Homo sapiens: one gene and its partners. The protein of the gene in region 1 purifies or fractionates together with the protein of each later gene. This does not show direct contact. Each region holds a gene or a part of one and is shown in the gene's direction. Other genes may lie near its edges.

Region 1 (7,147 bases):
ACAGGCATGAGTCACTGCCCTCAGCTCTTTTTCCTCTTTAGTACTTCCTTCCCCCCGTCTCCCATCTTAAGGTCTGCTGTCTTTTTCTTCTTGATCAACAAAATAAATTCATTTTTCAAATATATTGTGGTGGCTTACACTTGTAATCCCAGCACTTTGGGAAGCCGAGGTGGGAGGATGGCTTCAGGCCTGGAGTTCAAGACCAACCTGGGCAATGTACTGAGACCCTGTCTCTACAAAAAATTTAAAAATTAGCTGGGTATGGTAGTGCAAGGTTGTAGTCCTAGCTACTTGGGAGGCTGAGGCAGGAGGATCACTTGAGTCCAGGAGGTCGAGGCAGCAGTGTGCCTTGATTGTGTCACTGCACCCCAGCCTGGGTGACAGACCAAGTCCCTGTCTCTAAAAAATAAAAGTAAAATATACTATGTCATGACTTACGGCTTTTAAGTATTATCTTTATTTTCAAGTTTAGCCTAATAAATACTTTTGTAGGTTTTTTTTTTTCAACAGCTTCCTTCTACTCTAAAAGGGTTGCTATAGTATTTTAGCAGATCTATAAAGGAACAAGGATAATGTGGGCTACTGGGGATAGTGTGATAAAAAATGTTTAAGAAATATTCAGTGGACATTTACTGAAGCGTGCAAGGTATTATACTATTGGTAAGGAGCTAACACAATGACAGGAGAGGCAGATTCATGAACAGAATTTTATTGCAGTGTGGTGAGGATAATGATGAAAATATGCAGATAGGTGTCTCTTTCTCTGTGAGGCTATAAAACTAACTTGGCTTTGAAACACTGCGGAGGGCTTCCTGGAGGAGTTAATGCCTGGCTTGAGTCTTAAAATATAAGTAGTCAGGCAAGAAGTGTGGAGCAGAGAGCCTAAGCAAAGACATAGGTGAATAGGGAAGGGTCTCCCTTGTCTTTTTAGTTTCTGAAGTAGCTTCCTGAGTCATTGGTAGAAGGGGAGGCACCCCAGCCCTGTCACTGTTTAATCTTGACAGCCTTTTGCAAATATACTGTGCAGCGGTGACCACACAGGCAACTATTATGACTAAACTATCAAGTTTACCAGATATCCCCCACCACCTTTAAGTACAACAACACTTTGCTGACTGGGTGCAGTGGCTCGGCCTGTAATGCTAGTCTGTAATGCTAGCCTGTAATGCTAGTGGGAGGATCACTTGAGGCCAGGAGTTTGAGACCATCCTCGGCAACTTAGACCTCTGTCTCCACAATTAAACAAAAAAATACTTTCCTCATTTTCTAGGCATTCTGGTATATTTCAAATGATAGCCTGATAACCACAATCCTCTCTGTATTAGTTTCTTACAGTTGCCATAACAAAGTACCACAAACTGGATGGCTTAACCTACAGAAATTTATTGTCTCATGGTCTAGAGAATACAACTCTGAGAAGGTGTTTTCAGGGTTGGTTCCTTCTGAGGACTGAGGGAGAACAACTTCTCTCCTAGCTTCTGGTGTTTTGCTGGCAATCTTTGGCATTCCTTGGCTTGTAGAAGCATCACCCTAATCTCTATTTTCATGTTCATGTTCATGTGGGTCAAAATTCCCTTGGGCCCATGCCTGGGTTCAAATTCCCACCCCCACCCAGTCTCCCCTTCACCCTGGCCTTTTTTTCTTTTCTTTTTTTTTTTTTTTTTTTTGAGACAGGGTCTGGCTATGACACCCTGGCCGGAGTGTGGTGGTGTGATTACAGCTTACTGCAGCCTCAACCTTCTGGGCTCATGCAATCCTCTCACCTCAGCTGCCCCGAGTAGCTGGGACCACAGGTGACCACCACCATGCCTAGTTAATTTTTTAAAAATTTTTGTAGAGATGAGGTTTCTTATCATTGCCCAGGCTAGCCTCAAACTCCTGGCCTCAAGTGATCCTCCCACCTCGGCCTTCCAAAGTGCTGGGATTACAGGTGTGAGCCACCGCACCTGGCCCAAATTTCCTTTTTTGTATAAGAATACCAGTCATATTGGATTAGGGGCCCATCCTACTACATTTAGCTAATTACATTTGAAATAATCCTATTCCTAAGTAAAGTCATATTCTAAGGTACTGGAGGTTAGGACTTCATATGAATTTTGAAGTCCTTGAATTCCCTCAAACATAGGGAATTTAACTCACAACATCACATTTCAAATGTAGGTTTTATAACTTATGGGCAAATCTTAATTTCAGAAAATATTACCAAGTGTTTAGAATTTACTAGAAATTTACCTAGTAGGTGTCTTAGTTAAGCTGCTGTTTCATTAAATGCTTATCTTTTTCAAAAGATTTTCCAAATGTAGGAAATGTAGGATATTTCCAAATATCCTAAATTAAAACTAGAAGGGCTTACTTGTTGACACAGTGTGATCAGGACTGCTGATCTCTGAAGCACTGGACAATTCTATAAAATTGTCTATAAAAAAGAATATATTGAACTACTTCTAAATATGGTTTAAAAATAATAGACAAAATGGCTATAAAACATCTGTTACTGAATAAAGAAGAATACATGAGCACTGGAAATCAGTATTTATAATCATTTGACAGTTGGCATTCACAAAATTGTTTCATATTGCACTGGTGATAGTTTCTACATATATCACTTTTTTTTTTTTTTTTTTTTTTTGAGACGAAGTCTAGCTCTGTCACCCAGGCTGGAGTGCAGTAGCTTGATCTTGGCTCACTGCAACCTCCGCCTCCCGGGTTCAAGCGATTCTTCTGCCTCAGCCTCCTGAGTAGCTGGGACTATAGGTGTGCGCCACCACGCCCGGCTAATTTTTTTTATTTTTAGTAGAGACAGGGTATCACCATGTTGAACAGGCTGGTCTCGAACTCCTGACCTCGTGATCCGCCTGCCTCGGCCTCCCAGTGCTGGGATTACAGGCGTTAGCCACCGCGCCCGGCATCATTTTCTTTTCTTTTCATTTTTTTCAGACAGAGACTCGCTCTATCACCCAGGCTGGAGTGCAGTGGCAACATCTCGGCTCACTGCAACCTTCGCCTCCCGGGTTCAAATGATTCTCCTGTCTTAGCCTCCCGAGTAGCTGCGACTACAGGCGCGCGCCACCACGCTCGGCTAATTTTGTATTTTTAGTAGAGACGGGGTTTCACCATTTTGACCAGGCTGGTCTCGAACTCCTGACCTCAGGAAGATCCGCCTGCCTCGGCCTCCCAAAGTGCTGGGATAACAGGCGTGAGTCACCATGCCCGGCTACACAGATCACTTTCTAAATTAGCGCTGTATTTGATTCTTATTTTAGGTATGTGACTAAAAGTACAACTTCTAGAAACACTTTTTTCCCCTTCCGCTTACAAAATGGATCCATCCAATATCTATTACCTAAACATTTCACTGTCTTTTGATTAGTTTTGTAACAAAGTTCACAATATATGCACCAATATTCAACAGAAGTAATGCAATGTCTGATACCACTTGCTTTTTACCCAACGCAAAACAATTTGATTCTGTAAGTCGTTCAAGTCCTATTCATTTACAGAAGCAAAGCTGGCTTTACAGAATTTCATTAGTGGATGAAGCAGCTACCTCCGAAGGGTAGAGCATCGAGTTGAATCAAGGATCCTGTAACCTGATACTATTACTGTTGTTCTGTCTGCCAGTCCTAAATAGGTTTCATAATCTCATTATCTCCTATCCTCTCCATGTGAAAGGTCTTGTTTTGGGTACTGTCGCTACCGAAATTAAGCTAACTTTGACTAGAGATTGGTTTATTATATTTCCCAGATCTGAAATCACTGTGGGAGCAACTATACGGAGAATCTTAAAAGATTTCTATGTCGCTTAGCCTGCTTTTGCCACGGGTTCGCTTTCCCATCTCCCACTGTCTCAGAACCTTCTCTTTTTTTCTCTTTTGCTTAGTTCCTCTTACACTCAAGCTGTGTAGGGGGATTTAAATTCCAACCCGGAACTCGGAATCGCGCGCCTTGCATGACGGAAGTCGTAGTTTCTGTGACTCCTCCCTTCCCGCCTTTCAAGCCGATTCCTCCCGGTACCTAAAAACTACAACTCCCAAAATGCATCCCCGGTTTGGCCCGCCCCCGTGCGCAAGCGCTCTGAGGCCGCCGGATTTGAATCGGCGGCGTTGTTATTGACGCCATATTGGGGCCGGCGGCGGGTGGGAGAGTTCTACGAGGGAGGGGAAGCGGTTGGACGTGTTCGCTTGGGTTCCTGCTGCGGCAGCTACCTCGCAATCTCTCTGCATCGATCGCCGCTCGCAAGCTACTGACCGTACTCGGGCGTATTAGGAGCCGCGTTCCAGCCTCACACCCCACGGTGCTGTTTTCGACTTCAGAAAGGATCTAGTCTCAGCACAGAAGCGCCTCAGGCGCGGCGCAAAGCTCGAGCGGACGGCGGGGGCGGCCGGAGCCTCTCTCGGGGGAGCCGCGCCTGAGGAGGCGGAAGAACCCCCCTGACGCGACTGGCGTGTGCTTCTGCCCGCCACCGCCCCTCCCGCTCTCACCCGGGCCGTCCCTGGCCACTGCCCCTGCCGCGGAGGCAGCGGCGGCAGCGGCTCTCCTTTCCACAGCCGGCGCTCCGCGACCCGCTTGGCTCCTGAGCCCGTCGGGTAGGCTCTCCTCGAGTTCCCGCTCTTCACCCCTTCCCTCACCCTCTTCTTTCGTCACCCGTCCCCGACCCCACCCGAGCCCGGCGCCTCAGCTGCCCCCGGCCATGGCGTGCGGAGCCACTCTGAAAAGGACTCTGGATTTCGACCCGCTGTTGAGCCCGGCGTCCCCGAAGCGCAGGCGATGTGCGCCATTGTCGGCGCCCACCTCGGCCGCTGCCTCCCCGTTGTCGGCGGCCGCGGCCACCGCCGCCTCCTTCTCCGCTGCGGCCGCCTCGCCGCAGAAGTATCTCCGAATGGAGCCATCCCCCTTCGGCGACGTCTCCTCCCGCCTCACCACAGGTGGGACCCGGCCCCGCGGCCGCCGGGGTAGTGGAGAGAACTGGGAACAGGGGTCCTGGGGTGTGGGATGCGGCCCCTGGGGTGGGGGTGCCGGACTGTGTGGTTCTTGTTCTTAGCAAAGTAGTAGGGCAGCCACGTTTTTCACTAGGTCCTCGTAGCCCGAGGACCTAATAAGACACAATAGAAATGGGCTGATGTCAAGGGGATAGTGTTTGGAGGTGGGTAGGGGCTTTGCCTTGCCCGTATTGGGTAGAACAGGGACATCTTTTTCTTTGGGCCGAATGATTGGAATTGTTTCCGTAGTCGCTGGAGCCCCAGCGGAAATGATCAGAGAGGACGATATTATTCGTAAATTTAGGCGAAAGGGTCACATTTCACCCCAATCTGGATGTGTGCTTGCCGTAATCGATTGGTTGCAGCTATTAACTCTGGGACTGGGTGGTTTGAGGCGAGGCTACAGCCCCTCCTTCAGTTCAGACACGGCTGATTTTAGTATAGTGGGGGTGGGGGGTGGGGGATGGATGTCACTAGGGCGAGATCTAGGCCTGTCATTAATCACCCACAAGAACGCCACTTTGGCTGAGTCAAGACCTGTTTCCCTAGCAGGGTCAACAACAAAGAAAATGCTCTTCCCGAGTACTGTAATATGATCACACTATAAGTCTAGACCTTGAGAAATGTTGAACTTTTAATAAGCATATTGCATTGAAAATTGGGGCTGAGGAGTTGCTTTTATTTGGAAATGTTTTATTTTTGCCCAACAAAGTATGCTGGGGGAAAACAACCTAGCCTTGAGAATAATGAAGAAATCAACCCAAGATTCCAAGGGACTTCAGACTTTTGCTTTTCATCTTGAAACATTTCCTGAGAGAGACTGGGGAATGTCTTTTGGCTGCTTTGTAGGGCATGTGTATGCCCAGTTTTTTCTGTACTTTGAAATCCTTGTGTGCCCCTGGCACAATCCTAGGATAGGCTTTTGTGGACTAGAAGTGTAAATGTTTCCTTTGTGTGTAGCATGCAAAGATTTCTGTGTGAGCCTTTAGTAATAATATCACCCTTTAGACAAAGCCTTTCCATAGCTTGATTTAAATGTCTCGTTATCAGTAGCTTAAAAAACCGAAGTATATACCTCTGTATTTGGTGACTTCCATTTGAAACTGACTTTAGTGTTTTTTTTTTTTTGTCACATTTAAAAATATTTTCTAAATCCATGGAGTGACCCTCGAATATGCAAGCTACCATTTTTGCTATTAAATATTTGGTCTAATTTAAGGACATACTGTTTTAGAGTTGTAGTGAGTTTTTACGGAAATTCTTAGATAAATTTATTTAATGACCTTACTAAACTGTGTTTTAATTAGATTGAAAAGGCATTTGTTGATTAATTGTTAGGCTTTACTTTGGGAAAAAAAAAAGGAAACAGCCAATGTCAAGAATGAGCTACTGGTGGTTGACATTTTTGGAATTTGTCTTTTAGTGAAATGGTATCATTGGAAATTGAAATGGATTCTGTACTTAACTAATAAAGCCATTTCAAAATAAGGTCATTAAGGAGCTAACCAGCAATACATTTCAGTCGAGGGAGTGAATTAATACAGTGCTAGGTTTGGGAATTAAAGTACTATATCTCAATGTCAAAATAATCTTGGGCATGTATGTGAACAATTGGGGACTATACCATGTTCCTCCCCTTTAAAGCACACTTATTCAGAATTGTGATCCTTTGTAAACGACTTTTCATTGGCATATCTGTAGCGTTGGTTAATACAGTTGGCTCCACATTATCTCAAGTTTAAATTAATTGGACTGTTGTAGTAAAACGACTGGAATTATTGGAATTGTTTAAGCCAGCTGATTGAGATTCACATTCACTTTCCAAAATACTGCTATTTTCTTCAAGGTGTTTTTTTTTTGACATCTACTTTGGAAGTTTGATTATATCCTGAAACCTAAAATCACATCCTTATTGATTCTGAGTCTGCTAAAAGTTATTTCCAAACTAATTTGAATATTATCGCAAAAAGTTTACTTGAGAAAACAAGTTGAAATTGAAATTTTGACTTGCTAAAATTACATTTTTTAAACGGTAGTTTTGAATGACATTCTAAATGTAATTTAGTTTGACTTTGTGTTTATATGGCCAATTTGGGGTATGGTCCTGTATGTTTTTTGTAATGTCATAATGGGAGCTGCAGTGTTGTGCAGGTATCAAAGAGCTTCCC
Region 2 (7,034 bases), on another chromosome or scaffold:
CCAAACACTTTGCCGACGCACGCATTGTGGGCACTGGTGAGGGGCCCCTACAGAGGGTACAGGGGGAGGGGGATGGGATGGCACCTCTGGTCGGCTTTCTTCTATGAAAAATGTGGCCAGGTGGGCATGAAGTATGGGTCCAGGGCTCATGCCAAGCCCCTGCTGAGGCACGGTGTGTCCCCGCAGACATCCGAGACTCACTGATGCAGGCCCTGGCCAGCTACGTGTGCTACCCACACTCCCTGCGGGCTGTGGAGCGAATCCCCGAGGAGCAGTGAGTGGGGCCTGGGGGGCACACACCCTGGCCACAAGCACCATGCCCAGCCTCACCCCGTCTCTCCCCTCCTTGCCCTCACAGGCGTATCGCCATGGTGAGGAACCTCCTGGCGCCCTATGAGCAGCGGCCCTGGGCCCAGACCAACTGGATCCTGGTGCGGCTCTGGAGGGTAAGCCTGACTCGAGGGGAAGTGGCTGAGGCTGGCTGGAGGGAGAGGGTGCGCTGTCCCATTGACCTGGGCACTGACCCCCACCTCCACAGGGCTGTGGCTTCGGGTACCGCTATACACGGCTGCCACATCTGCTGAAAACCAAACTTGAGGACGCCAATTTGCCCAGCCTCCAGAGTGAGTATCTGGGTTGGGCGAGTCCTGGGCAAGGCAGGCGGGGGCGCTTACCTCCTACCCATGGGTTCTTTCAGACTCTCCACTTCTTCCAGCCCCTCTCTGGTTCCCCCATTGGGTCCCAGACTCCCTACGTGTCCCCTGGGGTTTCCACTTTCCCTGCTTCCTTCCAGCCCAAGGATACTCGGGATGGGACTCCCCCTCCCCAGCCTTGCCCACAGTCTTACCTACATGTGCCCTTTGGGCCTGGATGCTCTATGTGGGTCATGGTGAGAGGCGGCACCATGTTCCTGGCCTGCTACAGCTCATGCAGACTGAATACTCTGTCCCTTGCCCTTTAAGCTAGCTCCCTGACCTCCAGCCTTGTCCCAGCACCATGTCCTTCTGCTTCTTTTTTGCTATCTGCTGGTGGCAGACCCTGGCCTTGGCTTAGGCCTTGGACACCTGAGTCCACTGGGAGCACAGATTGGAGGTTGGCCAGGTCCCCAGAGGGTATTCACGAGAGTTCCTGGAGGAAGGGACATTTAGTTGGGAGCAGAGGCTGTGCCCTCTCTCCAGGGTCCAGCAAGGACTTTCCCCTAGGCCTGGCCCTTGCAGAGTGCCAGGTGTGCCACACACTGTCCTCACCCTTCATGGTGGCTCTTCTTGGCTCATGTAGTCTGTTTCTGCCCTTGTGGGCAGTGTTTTGGTCCAAAGGGTGTCCCCAGAGAGGCTGAGTGTCTTCTGCTAAGTCACACAGCAAGTCCTTGCCAATTGCCGTGGTCCTGCGTCCAGGGCGGAACTGAGCTGCAAGTGGAGAGCGGCAGTGGGGCCAGGCCTGTCCTGCTGCTGCGGGAACTATTGATTTGTATCAAGCTGGTGGGGAGGTGCGCCAGGCCCGTTGCAGCTGAGGGCTCCGGTTACTGCTGCCTGCCAGCCCAGACTTGGTGCCCACCACCTCGGCCATATGCCAAGGCCAGGCCAAGGGCAGCAGAGGACAGTAGAGGACAGCAGGTTTGCAGCAGGGCTTAGAGTAGGCTCTTGGAGGAGCTGGCCTTGGTGCCGGTGGGGAAGCATCTAAGCCGCCCTGTTTAGGTCTGACCCTATCTGAAGGGTGTGCGACCCAGAACTTGCTGAGGGTCAGGCTGTGGCTGTGTGGCTGCTCTGGACCTGGAGTGGATGGTGTGGTGTCAGGGCTGGACACAGCTGCAGCCTGGGGCTTGCCTAGTAGAAGGAGGGGACAGATTCTGTCCCAACTAACTCCAAGGCAGCTGTCCTCTGTCCCCTGCTTTCATGACCTGAGCATTCCTAGGGAGCCATCTTTCTGTCCTTATACCAAAGCCTCAATGGGCGAGGACAGAGGCAAACAGGCAGAGGCCACTGCAGTGGAGTCCCTGATGATGCCGCCTCCTGTCCCCCTGCAGAGCCCTGCCCTTCCACCCTGCTGCAGCAGCACATGGCGGACCTCCTACAGCAGGGTCCTGATGTGGCACCCAGCTTCCTCAACAGCGTCCTCAATCAGCTCAACTGGGCCTTCTCTGAATTCATTGGCATGATCCAAGAGGTGGGCTGTGGTGGGGCCTCGTGGGTTAGGGTGGTGCAAGGGATGAGGCCTGGTCCTGGGCTAGAGCCAGGTGCTGACCACTGCATGCCCACGTGTTGGTGGCTCAGATCCAGCAGGCTGCTGAGCGCCTGGAGCGGAACTTTGTGGACAGCCGGCAGCTCAAGGTATGTGCCACCTGCTTTGACCTCTCGGTCAGCCTGCTGCGTGTCTTGGAGATGACTATCACACTGGTGCCTGAGATATTCCTTGACTGGACCCGGCCTACCTCTGAGATGCTGCTGCGGCGTCTTGCACAGGTGTGGCCATCTGGGCAACAAGGGTGGGACCCTGGGGATGCCCCATTGATGACGCTCCCCATCCACCAATGGACTCCTGCTCCCCTCACAGCTGCTAAACCAGGTGCTGAACCGGGTGACAGCTGAGAGGAACCTGTTTGATCGTGTGGTCACCCTACGGCTGCCTGGTGAGGACCTAGATGCCCTGCACCCCAACACACTACAGGCCTCGGTTCCTCTGCTAGGAACAGTGAGGCCTGATTCCACATTCTGCCCCCGGACAGCCAGACTTGGTGCTCTGCAGTCTCGGCTCACCCTTCTGTAGAGAGGGCAGTGGGCAGGCCTGGAGCCCTTGAAGCAGGAGCATGTGGGTGGCTCATCTCTTTCCTCCCCTTCCCCTCAGGCCTAGAGAGCGTGGACCACTATCCCATTCTGGTGGCAGTGACGGGCATCCTGGTGCAGCTCCTGGTGCGTGGCCCAGCCTCAGAGTGAGTGTTGGGGACCGTGGGCCCCTGTGGGAGTTGGGTGTGTCTGGTGAGGAGGGGCTGGACAGGGCCTCCTGGTACTTCAGTTTCCTCATCTGGAAAATGGACCTCAGCATCAGGTTTTGAGGCAGAGGGAAGGTGGTGAGGTGTGAACGGCCTAAATAGGGGGCAGACGGAGCTGCTCTAAGTAGGAGAATCTGGGACCCCAGCAGGACAGGTGGCCCTGGCCCACAGAGCCACTGGCTTGTGGCCATGCCTCAGGCCAGGCATGGGAGGCAGGACTCCGGAGGGTGTGCCGTCCTGTGGTGGACAGGGCCAGGCCGCCAGGAGAGCTGAACACACGGAGGACCGCCATTGTCTGCAAAGGCTCTAGCAATAAGCATGTGCTACCTTTATTAAACTCTGGAGCAGCGAGGTCCAGGATGGCCATGGGGGCCCCCAGCTCGGCCCCCACACATGAAGGGCTCCCAGACCCCCCTTCCCTGCCCCCCTGCAGTGGGAGCAGTGAGATGCATATGAAGCCAGGGTACCGCCTCAGCCATTAGGCTGAGACCAGTGCCAGCCCTTAAGAGGCTCCTGCTCTCGAGGGACGTGGAGTTCCGGCTCGGCCCTCCCAGCTCGGCCATGCTCGCCAGGCTTTTCGGGCTTTTTACTGCTGAAAAGCAGGGGTGCAGGCCATGATCCCCTTCACTGTGTCTTGTGAGCCCACAGAATGGGCTCTGCCTTCAGAACAACGGGTGGATGCCCCAGGCCAGAGAGAGCAGGGCCTCTGGCTGGGGCTTAGGCCAGACCACCAGGAACCTCTTGAGGAGCCTTTCCTGCCTGGTGCCTGCCCACCGGACTCTGCGTGAAGTTGTGAAGCTTTCAGGAGGTTGGGTGTTGGTGGATGGAGGGAGTCCCATTTCACCAGAGGGCGGGCTTGTTTCCTCTTTCTGTCCTGGGGTGTGGGCGAGATCTTCCTTCAGAGCCGCCTTCTTTTCCCTGTGGGCCCACTCCCTCCCACCCCCTTGGGAAGGGGAGGTGGCCCTGCGTCAGCTCTTGAGCACCACTCCTCGAGAGCTGTCTCAGCCCCTGAGGGTGGACGGGAGGCTCTGCTACAGGGGTTCTTCCACAGGCTGTAGAAGAACACAGCCACTTCCACAGCTGTGCTGTGTTGAAAGCCACAGGGGCCTGGGTCTCTCAGCCTCACAGGGCATTTGGGCACTAGGAAGTCCGCGGGAAAGCAGGAACTAGCACACCTTGCAGGGCCTGGGGCCTTTGGGTCCTGTGCAGGGGCAGAGCAGAAGGCAGGTTGGGGACCACAACCCCTGTCTCTACCAGTGAGCGAGAAGGCCCATTGTGTTTCGAGGCCCATACAGGAAGCTGGGGGGCCAGGCACAGTGCTTCCCACCAGTATCTGCCAGTTCTCTGGACCGAAGCAGGGAGCAGGGCGAGCAGCAAGAGGGTGGGGGCCTGGGTGGGGGAGCCCTGGGCAGTCTAGGTTGTCATGGGACCCTCGGAGCCTATGGAGCTGGCGGACTCAGAGCCAGCCTTCAGCTGCAGGCCTCCAGGGTTGTAGAGATCGAATTCCTCAGCTACTGCCAGCTGCACGCGGCCATTGAGGCCCCTCCGGCCTGGCTCCAGAAAGACTACGTGCTTGTGGACGCTGGCCTTGCGGCTGGGTGCGTCTGGCGGTGTGGTGCTGAGTACTGAGGACTGTGCGCTCAGCTCTTGGAGCGGGCTGGGTGTTTGGGGCCAGCGGCGGCAGCGGCAGGCACGGCGGCAGCAGCGGCAGGGTGGGGCGAACAGGTAGAGCAGCACGAGCACAAGGCCCACGGCACAGCCCAGCAGTGTGGTGAAGCCTGTGTTGAAAGCCTCGGGCTCTGGGCGCGGAAAGTGCACGCTCACGTTGTACTCGTGCGTCTGGTTGTGGTGCAGGCGGGGCCCAGTGGCCAGGCACACGAAGAGTCCCGCATGCTGCTCCTGTACGTTGCCTATGGCCAAGCTGCCGTCGGCCAGCACCGCGATGCTGCCATCGCGGGATCCTGGCGCCCTGAGAAGCTCCTGCTGCGGCGAAACCCAGGCAATGCGCATGGCCGGGACGCTGGTGTTGCAGTAAAGCCTCAGGGACCGACCCACCAGCGCGTACAGGTGCTCTTCCGGCCGCTCTAGGCCAAGAGCTGGGGCCGACGAGCAGTTCTCAAAGACGCGGCTGTGCTGGAAGAAGCGCACGCGGGACGCGGGTACCTTGAAGGCCAAGCATACGTACTCGCGCGCAAAGTCGCGCACGGCGCTCAGGCCCCGCTGGTGCCAGCGCTGTAGCAGGTGGTAGAGGCGGCAGTCGCAAGGCAAAGGGTTGTTGTGCAAGTAGAGGCCGTTCTTGAGGAAGGCCGGCAGCGCGGCCAGCTCAGGTACGGAGATGTGTCCCAGCCGGTTGGAGGAGAGGTCCAGAGTAAGCAGGTGGGTGGCGCTCAGACCGTGCAGGTGGTCGAAGGAGAACGAGGCGAGTTCGTTGCAGCCCAGGTAGAGATGGCTGAGCGCGCGCAGGCCGTGGAAGGCATGCTCGTCCAAGTGCACCAAGCGGTTATTGAACAGAAGCAGCTTCTCCAGCGCCCCCAGCCCGTCGAGGTCGTGGCGGCCAAGCGCCCGCAACGTGTTAGATGATAGATCGAGCAGCCTCAGGCCGCTGGCGTTGACGAAGACGCCGCGACCCAGCGCATCTAGTTCGTTGTGGTCTAGGTGCAGGGCGCGCAGCTGGAAGAGGGGCGCCAACCAGCCGGGGCGCAGGCGCTGGAGCGCGTTGTGGCTCAGGTCGAGGTCCGCAGTAGCGGCAGGTAACTCGGCTGGCACGTCCTGCAGCCCTAGGCCAGTGCAGCTTAGCAGGTCGGCAGCGCAGATACATTTGTAGGGGCAGTTGTGGAGCGCACGGGGCGGGAAACCCTCGGAGTCCGGGGTGCCTAACCCAACGCGCAGCATGCAGAGCAGTGTCCCCAGCAGCACCAACCAGGTCATGGCGGCGACCACCAGGGACAGTACAGAGCAGCTCTGTGCAGGTTGCAGTTCCAGGACTCACCCTCTTCTGCTCTAGTGCGACATGGGTGGCACCGGATGGCCCTTGCCGAGGAGGCACGGCGGGTTCTTGCCAGCCGACGGCCCCTACTCTCCGGTTCCCAGGTTGTGAGGCGGTGCGGCACTCTTAGCCGCGCTCCCTTCGGCTTCGCTAGCCCTCTCCAAGCGAGTTCCTGATCGGCTCCTAAATACTCCCCCCAGGGGCGGGGCCCGGGCTCCTATTGGTTCCCGTTTGAGGAGGCGGGGCGGCTACATCCCTTTGTGCCCAATGGCCCCGCATGACCGCCAGATGGGGAGCAAGGCCAACCCCAAAGTCCCCGTCAGCCTTTGGCTGGCAGCTCTCCGCCGCTCGTTTTTCCTCGGGGAGTAAAAGGGGGAGTCTGGAAGAATGTCTCCAAGCTGCTGTTAGTGTTTATTTGAAGTGACTTTGAAGGACTGATAATATTATGGGGCAGGCAGACTCTCACTATCTTAAGGTGGTTCGCCTGAGCCTTCTTAAAGTGGTACCCCAGGCCGGGCGCGGTGGCTCACGCCTGTAATCCCAGCACTTTGGGAAGCCAAGGCAGGTGGATCACCTGAGGTCAGGAATTCGAGACCAGCCTGGCCAACCTGGTGAAACCCTGTCTCTACTAAAAATACAACAATTAGCCGGGCGTGGTGGTGGGCGTCTGCAATTCCAGCTACTCGGGAGGCTAAAGCAGGAGAATCACTTGAACCCGGGAGGTGGAGGTTGCAGTGAGCCGAGATCGTGCCATCGCACTCCAGCCTGGGCAACAGAGCGAGACTCGTCTCAAGAAAAAAAAAAAAAAAACAGGCTGTGTGGCACCTTACTAGAATACAGGACTTGGGGTTTGGGAAGCAGGGAGACGGAAAGGATGCAGGGGGGGTGATCATGTACGAGCCATGGCACTCCTCATTGGCAATCCCAAGAGAGACTTTTAGCCAGGCCCCAAGCCTTCTGACTGCCCTTGCACCCTCCCCTACCTAGGAGAGAGCAAGCCACATCAGTGCTCCTGGCAGATCCCTGCTTCCAGCTACGCTCAATATGCTATCTCCTGGGACA
Region 3 (3,669 bases), on another chromosome or scaffold:
AAGTCGGGTAAGTTGCATGGAGAAGGCAACCCTTGAACACTTGCAAGGAGCTAACAATACCTGCTTCTGGAGTATTTAAACGCCAGTGGGTATGCTAAATACTTTTACCTCAGACCACCTACTAACCTTACAAAGTAGTCCACTTTGCTCACCCAGTTTTACAGATTGATGAAACTGAAGCAGACAGATATTGTTAACCTATCAAAGGTCACCCTGCAAGTGTGTGATTATAGTCCAAGCAGCTTGTACTTGTTGCCTATTTGTTTTGCCTTTCCTGTGCATTTGCCAGGCAGATGAGAGTGGGGTAAGACATTGCAGAGAAAAAGTAAGAAAAGGCCGTCATGAAACAATTTCATTTTCAGACCTTATAAGCACGTTACAAGTACTGATATTTATGCTTAAGTTCACGGGAGTCCTGGCCAGAAATAAAGCTGGAAGGACAAGTGGGGGGCAGATTGTGAAGGATCCTTCAAGACCTGCTTCCTCTAGAGAATGGGAGACTACCCAAGATAACTAAACAGGGAAGTGATCAGGTTTTGTGTCTTAGAAAAGTGTTGCAGTGTTGATGCAAATGTGACTAGAAGGGTGACTTGGAACCTGGATTGAAGGGGTGGGAGATGGGAGAAAGGAATGCAGTCTGGCAGCAGCTACAGCAGTCCAGGTGGGAAAACCCAGAGCCTGAACTAAGGTTGTAACTAGAGGGGATAGGGTGGAAGAGCTGGATTAGAGATGTTGACAAGATAAAGTCAGTAGGACTTAAAGACTGACAAGTAAGGATTTTCCAAAAGTGAGAGCTGTGGAATGAATTGTCTTAAAATGTTGCAGTGAGTTCCTCCTCATCAATCCAAGTGCTCGATCAGAGGCTAGACCTTTAGTTAGCAGTCACGGGAAAATTCCCCATTCTCACGGGGATTTAGACTAGGTCTTAACCATACTTTACCAAGATTCCAGTAGCAAAGCACCCAAAAGTAATCGCAATAAAATTCCAATTTTTGTAGGCCGGGCATAGTGGCTCACACCTGTAATCCCAGCACTTTGGGAGGCCGAGGCAGGCGGACCACGACATCAAGAGTTCAAGAGCAGCCTGGCCAGCATGGTGAAACCCCGTCTCTACTAAAAATACAAAAAAATTAGCTGGGCATGGTGGCGCATGCCTATAATCCTAGCTACTCAGGCAGCTGAAGCAGGAGAATTGCTTGAACCCGGGAGGCAGAGGTTGCAGTGAGCCAAGATCATGCCACTACACTCCAGCCTGGGCGACAGAGCGACACTCTGCCTCAAAAAAAAAAAAAAACAAAAAAAAAAACAAGTTTTGTGAATTTAAGTTTCCCTAATGGATGGTACAGGTCAACATTTGCCATCTAATGACACTTACATTCCAGTTTTTTCCTTTTTTGAGTAACTGGGAAAAGGGTGGCATTACTGCTGGCTTCCTAAAATTGAAAAGTATACTAGGGTTTTTAAACCTGTGTAGAATACATGATATGGTAGCAAATGTGCTGTAGGAAGAAAAGCAATGAGGAACTACTGGCCTGACTAGGAGGCCTAGAAGTCCCTCCCAGGCTTGAGTTGTTCTGACTTGGCATGATTACATAGCTGCGGCAAGTGACGTTTCCTTCAAGCCTTGGTTCCCTCATCTGTAAAATAGGGAACTAATACCTACCTCACAGGATTGTAGTTAGAATTAAGGATGACTTCATTAAAGCACCTCTAGTGGTGGAAGATGTCCCATCCTATCCCCCACCCATAGCTGGGAGCTATGTTTGGCTCATTCTTCCTGACTCACTGGATTACACTGTGACTCAGTTCAATTTCACACATGCTGCTGCTAAATTAGGGTCTTGGTGAGCCTTTGGGAGGACAGCTCTGAGGAATGAATTGTAGCACTGCAGCCCTGCCTGAGGAACATGATAGAAACAGGTGGTAGGCCCAGCTCTTGCCTTCCACCTACTAAGCAGTTTTTCTGTGGTTAGCTGTGTGACATAAACTATCGGTGTATTAATTTGCTTTCACTAGATTCCCCCCCCCCCAACAACTTAGTCCAAGAACATACCTGAATTCTTTGCATTTCCTTGCCTTAGTTGCTTTTGTAGGGTGGACAGCAGGACTGCATGAGAATAGCTGTGCTTCTGGACCCTATGGTGAAAGCTCTAGTGAACTGCAATTAGGCCCAGGGTCCCGGAGGAAGAAGGGGAGAGAAAAAGGGGGGTAGTTTTCCAAAAGATAAGTAGGGGACAAAAAAGTCCACGGGGCCTATGAGCGGTGAGACTCCTGCCCTGATTGTGGCAAAGCACCTGGAGATGATAGAACTTCCTAGGGAAAAGGCTGCATGGAGTCCCCAGGGATGCTGGGCCCTGGTCACCAAGGCTCCCTGGGAAGGTCTCTTGTACCTGGGGCACACAGACCAACACTTCTGAATTTGCAAGCTTAAGAGCATGTATGAGCAGAACCTGTGCAGACCAAGGCTTAGAGGGCTCACCTCAATGTTTTGCACTGTGTGAGACCCCAGGACCTTTTCGTGATTCTGGAGAGGGGAACAAACCATAATAACAACAAACCAGGTAGCAGGATAGAGACTCATTCTCATCTATTTTGGTTAAAAGAAAATAAATGTATTTCTTCCACACCTGATTTTGTGATTGCAAATTCATAACTAATATCCCTCGTCAGCTCCGCTGACTCATCCCTGCCACAGGGAGGTTCACAGCAAGAGCACAGAAACTAGGGCCAGTGCCCGGTTGTGTGACCTTGAGTAAGTTCTTTTTCCCTTGAACAGGGAGAGAGACACAATGGATCAGAGTGTCTCTGCCAGTTCTAACTTGGGGATTCTAGTGGGTTGAACCGAACGGTAGTCCGTTTCCAAAAGAGGAAGCCAAGACCAGAGGGGGAGTGGTTCCTTCAAGTTTGCAGAACCAGTAAGTGGCAGAGCAGGACTCATATCTAGTTAGTGGTTCAGAGCATGGGCTCCGGAGCTAGACTGCCTGGATTTGAACCCTGGCTTTGCCACTTGCCTGTTGGGTGACTTTGGACAAGCTGCTTAAATTATGTCTCCATTTCCTAATCCACAGAACAAGTGTAATACTAGTTATCTGTTTCATGGAGTGATTGTGAGGATTAAATAAAGTTAATATAACACAAAGCACTTCGTAGTGCTGCCTCATAGTAAGTGTTAATGTTACCTATTATTAGTCTGATCCCAAGTCTAATGCAGTTGTCACCACCTAAACCTGCCTTTACAGAGCTGGCCTTTCTGAGAAACCCTGTGCCTCTGTAGATTCAACACTCCCATCTGTGCAGATGGCTAACAGCTAGGCTGAAAACAGAAACCTTAGGTTGGAAAGGGTCAGCTGGAGGGCTGAGGCCCATGGCCCCAAATCCTCCCCAGGAGAGAGAGTAGGTTCAGAAAGGAGAGAGCTATAAACAGAGCCTTCCTCCCTTGCCCTCAGATCCCAAAATAACACTTGTCTACCGCCATCCTGCCCAACTGGCAGAGTGGCAGGCTGAGTAAGGTGCCATTTAAAGATAACCTGGCCCTCACCATCTGCCCCACTGGCTGGGCTGGGCTCCTGAGGCCAGGCCTTGGCTGCCTGGGACTGCTGCTGCTCCCACAGCCACCCAGAGTGTGCCTGAGTAGGGGGCTGCTCACAGCTGCCATCCAAGCCAGCCTGG
Region 4 (7,003 bases), on another chromosome or scaffold:
CTTTGTCCCATCTCAAGGGAAACACAAAGCAAACCTCTCTTCTGAATGCCTCTTTTATAAATAAGAAAATTGAGGCTCGGGAAGGCTAAACGAATTTTGCAACAAGGCTGAAAAAGGTAAAGCTGGGACCACACTTGGGTGTTGACTTACAGGCCTTCCACTATATCAGGGAGGCAGACTATAGTCCATGAGCCAAGCCCACCTTCCCCCTTCCCCTACCTGTTTTTTAAGCAAAGTTTTATTGGAACACAGCCATGCTCTCTTGTTTATGTATTGTCTATGGCTGCTTTCTCACTGTAATGGCAGTTGTTAGTTGTTAGTAGTTGTTACAGAGAAAGTATGACCTGCAAAGCCAAAAATATTTACTATCTGTAAATATTTTGGCTACATTATGCTACTTCTGTGAACCTCCACAGACTTCTAATTCTAAGACTCAGTTATTCTAAGACTTTAGTTGGAGGAGAGTGACACAGCACAAGCTAGGTCTTGAAAACCTACTTTCTTCTATACTAACAAGAAATGAGGGCAGCTCTAGTGCTACTTAGCTAAAGCAGATTTCAAAAAGTCCTAGGGAGAGCTGGGTGTGGTGTCATGTGACTGTAGTGCAGCTACTTGGGAGGCTGAGGCAGGAGGATCACTTGAACCCAGGATTTTGTCTCAAAAAAATAAAAATAAAAATAAAAAAGCCTGGAAAGAAAGAAGGATGAATCAGCTTAAAAGATAGTCCTTAAAAATAATAATAAAAATACTGTGGATCTTCCAATTCAGAAATCTGCAGCGTTTGTGAATGAATGAATATTGGTATGTACAAAGGAAAAGTCTGGAAGGATACAGACATTCAGTGGGTGGTTACCTTTGGCGGAAGGAAAGGTATTTAACTCTTTGTTTCTTCTATATTGTTTGTGTATGTGTGTATATATAGTATAACTATGTACTTTTTGCAATTAAAAAAACACACAAACACACACAATGAGGATGAGAGAGAGAGAGAGAGAGACCTCCCCCCTCCAAGTGGTATTTAAGAAAACAATCTTTCTAGAGTGATGGATGCAGCTGTGTTCATAGTGGATGGTTGACTTAATGACCTCACTTGCCCCTGGCATCCATCCCATGATTGATAGGCTGCCTCAAACTCCTCAGGCTCTGTGTTCCTTTATGTGCAGGGAGCTGGAAGAAACATTCAGAATAAAGTATTACAATTTCTGCAGAGACAAACGAATTGCATAGTTGTGTTTGGAGATACAACTGCAACTCGTTTCCCATTTCTCAATAAGCTAGTATGAAGACTCAGTTGTGGATGTCAGAAACCCAATCAAGAAATATTTCACCTTTTTTTCAGAATTGCTTCAAGATATAAAGGGATGGCTGTTTTTTTTTCTATTAGAAAAAATACAAATAGTACATGAGCACTGTAAAACATTCAAACAATACCCATGTGTATAAAATAAAAAGTGAAAGTTCTCCCTTCAAATTACACTCACCAGGGTAATAAATGCAAATAATTTGACACTAGAATACCTGTAAACAGGTATTTACAGGTATTCCATTCATATTCAAATATTCATAGTTAAACAAAATGGCATCAGGCTACATATAAAAAAGCATTTTTACTTTCACTTAATGTATCTTGGGCCATGGAATATATAGGTATATTTAGATTCATCTCATTCTTTTTATGGGTGCACAATATTCCACTATGACTGTACTACATTTTTTTTTTTTTTGAGACAGAGTTTTGCCCTTGTTGCCCAGGCTGGAGTGCAGTGGCACGATCTCAGCTCACTGTAACCTCTGTCTCCCAGGTTCAAGCGATTCTCCTGCCTCAACCTCTTGAAGTGGCTGGGATTACAGGCGCCTGCCACCTCGCCCGGCTAATTTTTTGTATTTAGTAGAGACCGGGTTTCACCATGTTGGTCAGGCTGGTCTCGAACTCCTCACCTCACGTGATCCACCTACCTTGGCCTTCCAAAGTGATGGGATTACAGGCATGAGCCACCACACCCGGCCCAACAATGTCTCCACTTTTAGACACGTAAGTTGGTCCTCTTTTGTGTTGTAGTGCTGCAACACTAAATATCTCTCTCTCTTTTTTTTTTTTTTTTGAGAGAGAGTCTTGCTCTGTTGCCCAGGCTGGAGTGTAATGGTGTGATCTTGGCTCACTGCAACCTCTGCCTCCCGGGTTCAAGCGATTCTCTTGCCTTGGCCTCCCCAGTAGCTGGGATTACAGGTGCCGCACCACCACGCCCAGCTAATTTTGGTATTTTTAGTAGAGACGGGGTTTCATCATGTTGGCCAGGCTGGTCTCGAACTCCTGAACTCGTGATCCGCTCGTCTTGGCCTCCCAAAGTGCTAGGATTACTGGCGTGAGCCACTGCCCCTGGCAACACTGAGTATCTCGGTACACAAATATTTGGACTGTGTGTCCAAACATTTCTTTTGGACATATTCAAAAGGTTATGCATATTTAACAGATATTAAAATTGTTCTCTATAAAAAGGTTGTACAACTTAGAACCTTACCCCCAATTTATACTTTCTCATTGTTTCTTATTTCCCATTTTCCTAATTACCATCAAGGTTGAGGATCTTTTCATGTTTATTGGCCATTCGTGTTGCTTCTTTTGTGAATTGTTTTTCTTAGTCTTTGGTCTTTTTTTATTTTTTATTTTTTTTTTTGAGATGGAGTCTCTCTGTTGCACAGGCTGGAGTGGAGGGGCGCTATCTCGGCTCACTGCAATCTCCGCCTCCTAGGTTCAAGCAATTCTCCTGCTTCAGCCTCCGGAGTAGTACAGGCGCCTGCCACCACGCCCAACTAATTTTTTGTATTTTTAGTAGGGACGGGGTTTCACCATATTGGCCAGGCTGTTCTCGAACTCCCGACCTCTTGATCCGCCCCCGTGCCCTGCCGGGTCTTTTAAAAATGGTATTGTCTCACCCGGCTCCCCTCCCATTGGTTTGTAGGAATATCTTTTAAGTTATAGATATTAACTTTTTCCTTTCTTCTGTCTATAAGGTCCAAAATAGTAACTATTTCTACAATTGAAACATTCCCAATTTACATTTACTGTTGAGCATGATAATGACTTTCACCACATAGAGACGTGTAATTTTAGGTAGTCAAATCTGTCAAGTCTTTTCTCATATTGCTTCTGGGTTCCCTGTCAAGCTTAGAAACACATCTCTTCCAAAAATTACAGAAATATTTTTCTACTTTTTCTTCCATGTTTGTATCTCTCTCCCTCTCTTTTTTTTTTTTTTTTTTTTTTTTTTTTTTTTTTTTTTTTTTTTGAGACGGAGTTTCGCTTTTGTTGCCCAGGCTGGAGTGCTCACCGCAACCTCCGCCTCCAGGGATCAAGCGATTCTCTGTCTCAGCCTCCAGAGTAGCTGGGATTACAGGCATGCGCCACCACGCCCAGCTAATTTTGTATTTTTAGTAGAGACGGGGTTTCTCCATATTGGTCAGGCTGGTCTCGAACTCCCAAGCTCAGGTGATCCGCCTGCCTTGGCCTCCCAAAGTGCTGGGATTACAGGCGTGAGCCACTGCGCCCGGCCATGCTTATATCTTTAATCCAACCATATACTATTTTTGTGAAGGATGGAAGTAAGGCTCCCCTCAAGTTAATTTTTCTCCAATCTGGCTTGCAGGAAAGGGGTTTCTGGGGAGATTTTACCGAGCAACGTAGGGAAACGGCTGCCTGGCTACCTACCCCTTTTTGACACCCACACGTGCTCGGCACCTTACATACACTGCGTGATTTTATCCTAAAGCCACTTTTAAAATCTTAGTGTGTAAACAGAGAAACTGGGCGTCACATAAGGCAAGTGACCTGCACAGCCTGCTCCGGAGGAGACCCGTACGATCCCAGAGACAAGCACTGAACATAAGGCACCCGGCGCCGCGCCCGCTTTGCAACCTCTCGCGACAGTTGTACGTCATCCGAGAGCGCCGTGGAAGTCGTGCTGCAGGCGTCGCGCCAATCTTCGCTCTGAGGTGCTGTCTCACCGGTGAGACCTGGAAGCGGGCGAGTCTCGTGCTGTGTCGGACCTGCAGCCCCTGGCCTTCCGCCACCATGGAGTACCTCATCGGTATCCAAGGCCCCGACTATGTTCTTGTCGCCTCCGACCGGGTGGCCGCCAGCAATATTGTCCAGATGAAGGACGGTGAGAGGAAGCAGGGGAGGCCCGGCCAGGCCTGGGGTGTAGGAGCGGCCAGAAGGAGTTTGTCGGGGGTTGAATAAGTACCAGGGAGGATCTGAGAGATGGAAGCCGGCCTGCCCTGCCCGTACTTATTTTATTTATTTATTTATTTTTTCGAGAGGGGTTTCGCTCTTGTTGTCCAGGCCGGAGTGCAATGGCGCGATCTCGGCTTAGCACAGTCTTTGTCTCCCGGGTTCAAGCGATTCTCGTGCCTCAGCCTCCCGAGTAGCTGGGAACAGATATGCGCCACCACGCCTGGCTAATTTTTGTATTATTAGTAGAGATGTGGATTTCTCCATATTGGTCAGGCTGGTCTCGAACTCCCGACCTCAGGAGATCCGCCCGTCTCGGCCTTCCAAAGTGCTGGGATTACAGGCGAAACAGGCAGACAGGTCTGGGACCTTGGCATTTGCTCCTCCAGGGCTCCTGGGTCAGTGCTCTGCTCTGGCCTTCGCTAAATGCTTCTTGCTTGGTGAGAGTTGCCTAAAGGGAATCAGTTTATAAATGTTTAAGCGCCTGCCCAGAGCCTGGCTCTCTAGATCCCCGAATCTCTGATAAGTTTCCTGGTGTCGCTAGTAATGAGGTTAGTTTGTTGGCGGCATAAGGTGGGATCCTGAGGAGAGTGAGACTGTGGGACTGGCTCTCTAGATCCCCGAATCTCTGATAAGTTTCCTGGTGTCGCTAGTAATGAGGTTAGTTTGTTGGCGGCATAAGGTGGGATCCTGGGGAGAGTGAGACTGTGGGACCAGAAGCTTGGCATTTTCCTTCTTCCCGTGGCTCCCGATTCTTCTTTTCCAGTTTTCCAGAGCAATGGCTGCCAGGTTTTCCTTATATTTAAGTAGTTAATGGAGTTAAGAGATTGGAGCCCTGTCATTTATTTGCCTTATGAGTTTGTATAAGTTATTTTGCAGTGCCCAGATTTCCTCATCTTTAAGATTAGCAATACCAAACTCACAAACTTGTCGGGAGGATTTAGTAAATGAGTTATGTGCAAATCCTTAGCACTAGGCAGGTACTTAATAATACTAAGTGTACGTAGGTGCCCAAACATATTTGTCAAATGACCATTAAGTCATCTGAACCAAAGCTTAATACTTTTTCAACAGTAGCACGTCTTTGATCAGTTAAGGAAAACAAACTTAGATTCTGCAGAAAAACAACCAAAATCTTCTTAAAATTATGTATTGAGTAATTTAGTATAGATAGTATAGTATAGTATAGTATAGTATAGTATAGTATAGTATATTATAGTACTTAGGGGCAAAATGTCTGGACTCACTGCATAGGTTGAACCCAGGTTCTGCCACTTGTGACCTTAAGCAAATTTCTCTAACTCCGTGCCCTAGAGCTAACATCTATAAGGTGGTAATGTAATAGCACCTATCTCAAAAGGTTAATGAATTAATGTAAATCACTTAACATAGCACCTTATACTTTATGAAATTCTATGATTAGTTTGTAGAAGTTTTGTTTGTAAGCCAGTCCTTCCAAAGGAGTGAATTTGTTTTGAGAGTAAATTTGTCCATTATTTTGAATACTAAGGTCTTTGACAAGCAAGTGATTTTAACATTAAGTCATGTCTAGGTAGAACAATAATCATTATCTTTACAGGTCTTTTGTTTCATCCCAAATGTATGTGAAATCACATTGAAAAGTAGAATGTGCTTTAAGCCTACTTATGTACACAGTACTTTTAGTCATTATAGGGGATGCAGTATATTACTTATAACCCATAGAAGAGTCCAAGACATTAAGAAAACAAGGAAATAAATGCTGCAAGATGATTTTATATAATAAAAGAAGTATTACTAGTTAGTAGTAGGTTGGTTTTTAAATTAATGAGTTCAAGAGCAAATCCTAAGAGTAATAAAAGAAAGATAACTATGGTATGGGAGAAAGATGAATTTGAGTTAGTTCTTGAAAAATAATTGGAAATAGTTGCACTCTGCACATTCCAATTTTCCCTATAGTCTTTTCTGGTATAAAACAAATTATAATAGAAATTTTAGTATTGTATGATGACTTTTTTATTTATTTTATTTATTTATTTTTGAGACAGAGTCTCGCTCTGTCACCCAGGCTGGAGTGCAATGGCGCGATCTCGGCTCACTGCAACCTCCACCTCCTGGGTTCAAGCGATTCTCCTGCCTCGGCCTTCCAAGTAGCTGGGATTACAGGCGCCCGTCACCATGCCCAGCTAATTTTTGTATTTTTAGTAGAAACGGGGTTTCACCAGTTTGGCCAGGCTGGTCTCAAACTCCTGACCTCAGGTGATCCACCTGCCTCCGCCTCCCAAAGTGCTGGGATTACAGGCGTGAGCCACCGTGCCCAGCCGTCTGATGACTTTTTTCTAATCATTCATTTCACGATGGAGCTTGTTTAGAGTAGGCAAGAATGCTGAAAAAATAGTAACCTTCTGGGACTCCTTTCTCCAAGTATAAAATGATAATACAACTTCCAATCAATTGTCCAGTATGTCACTTTGTAAAAACATTTTGATACTATAGAGTAGACATTTGCTGAGGATTGCCACCTTATTAAGTGGTATAACTTTTGGTTTGCTTATATGCCGCATTTCATGTCTCTTTTCTCTTGGCCTATGTAGAATTGCTTTTAAGTTACTCGGAGTACTCCAGCCCACACAGAATTCTCTCTTTTCTGAATTCCTATAGCATGTATAATCCGAACTACATTATCTAACACTGAGTATCATAATATTGGACATGTATAGAATTCATTAGTTTTTCTCACTTGTGAGTTAGACAGGGGTAAGTCATATTATTAACATTTCACACATTTGGAAATAA

What was found.
Region 2: the proteins of AKIRIN2 (region 1) and RNF123 purify together in Homo sapiens (co-immunoprecipitation; 3 studies listed by BioGRID and IntAct, with this or other methods). This does not show direct contact.
Region 3: the proteins of AKIRIN2 (region 1) and IPO9 purify together in Homo sapiens (affinity purification with mass spectrometry; 4 studies listed by BioGRID and IntAct, with this or other methods). This does not show direct contact.
Region 4: the proteins of AKIRIN2 (region 1) and PSMB2 purify together in Homo sapiens (affinity purification with mass spectrometry; 3 studies listed by BioGRID and IntAct, with this or other methods). This does not show direct contact.

The regions. Positions count from the first base shown.
Region 1 is NC_000006.12:87,699,228-87,706,374, reverse strand, and holds the start of AKIRIN2 (akirin-2), read left to right. Parts: upstream 1-4,141; 5' UTR 4,142-4,690; coding exon 4,691-4,925; intron 4,926-7,147. UniProt on the Homo sapiens protein: Molecular adapter that acts as a bridge between a variety of multiprotein complexes, and which is involved in embryonic development, immunity, myogenesis and brain development.
Region 2 is NC_000003.12:49,713,552-49,720,585, forward strand, and holds part of RNF123 (E3 ubiquitin-protein ligase RNF123), read left to right. Parts: coding exon 1-36; intron 37-186; coding exon 187-274; intron 275-358; coding exon 359-446; intron 447-538; coding exon 539-623; intron 624-2,023; coding exon 2,024-2,163; intron 2,164-2,270; coding exon 2,271-2,459; intron 2,460-2,550; coding exon 2,551-2,626; intron 2,627-2,841; coding exon 2,842-2,926; intron 2,927-3,277; exon of another isoform or gene 3,278-4,399; coding exon of another isoform or gene 4,400-5,914; exon of another isoform or gene 5,915-6,133; intron 6,134-6,364; exon of another isoform or gene 6,365-6,959; coding exon 6,960-7,034. Other genes in the region: AMIGO3 (amphoterin-induced protein 3 precursor), read right to left, coding at 4,400-5,914. UniProt on the Homo sapiens protein: Catalytic subunit of the KPC complex that acts as E3 ubiquitin-protein ligase. Promotes the ubiquitination and proteasome-mediated degradation of CDKN1B which is the cyclin-dependent kinase inhibitor at the G0-G1 transition of the cell cycle.
Region 3 is NC_000001.11:201,881,153-201,884,821, forward strand, and holds the end of IPO9 (importin-9), read left to right. Parts: 3' UTR 1-3,139; downstream 3,140-3,669. UniProt on the Homo sapiens protein: Nuclear transport receptor that mediates nuclear import of proteins, such as histones, proteasome and actin. Serves as receptor for nuclear localization signals (NLS) in cargo substrates.
Region 4 is NC_000001.11:35,638,499-35,645,501, reverse strand, and holds the start of PSMB2 (proteasome subunit beta type-2), read left to right. Parts: upstream 1-3,975; 5' UTR 3,976-4,069; coding exon 4,070-4,160; intron 4,161-7,003. UniProt on the Homo sapiens protein: Non-catalytic component of the 20S core proteasome complex involved in the proteolytic degradation of most intracellular proteins. This complex plays numerous essential roles within the cell by associating with different regulatory particles.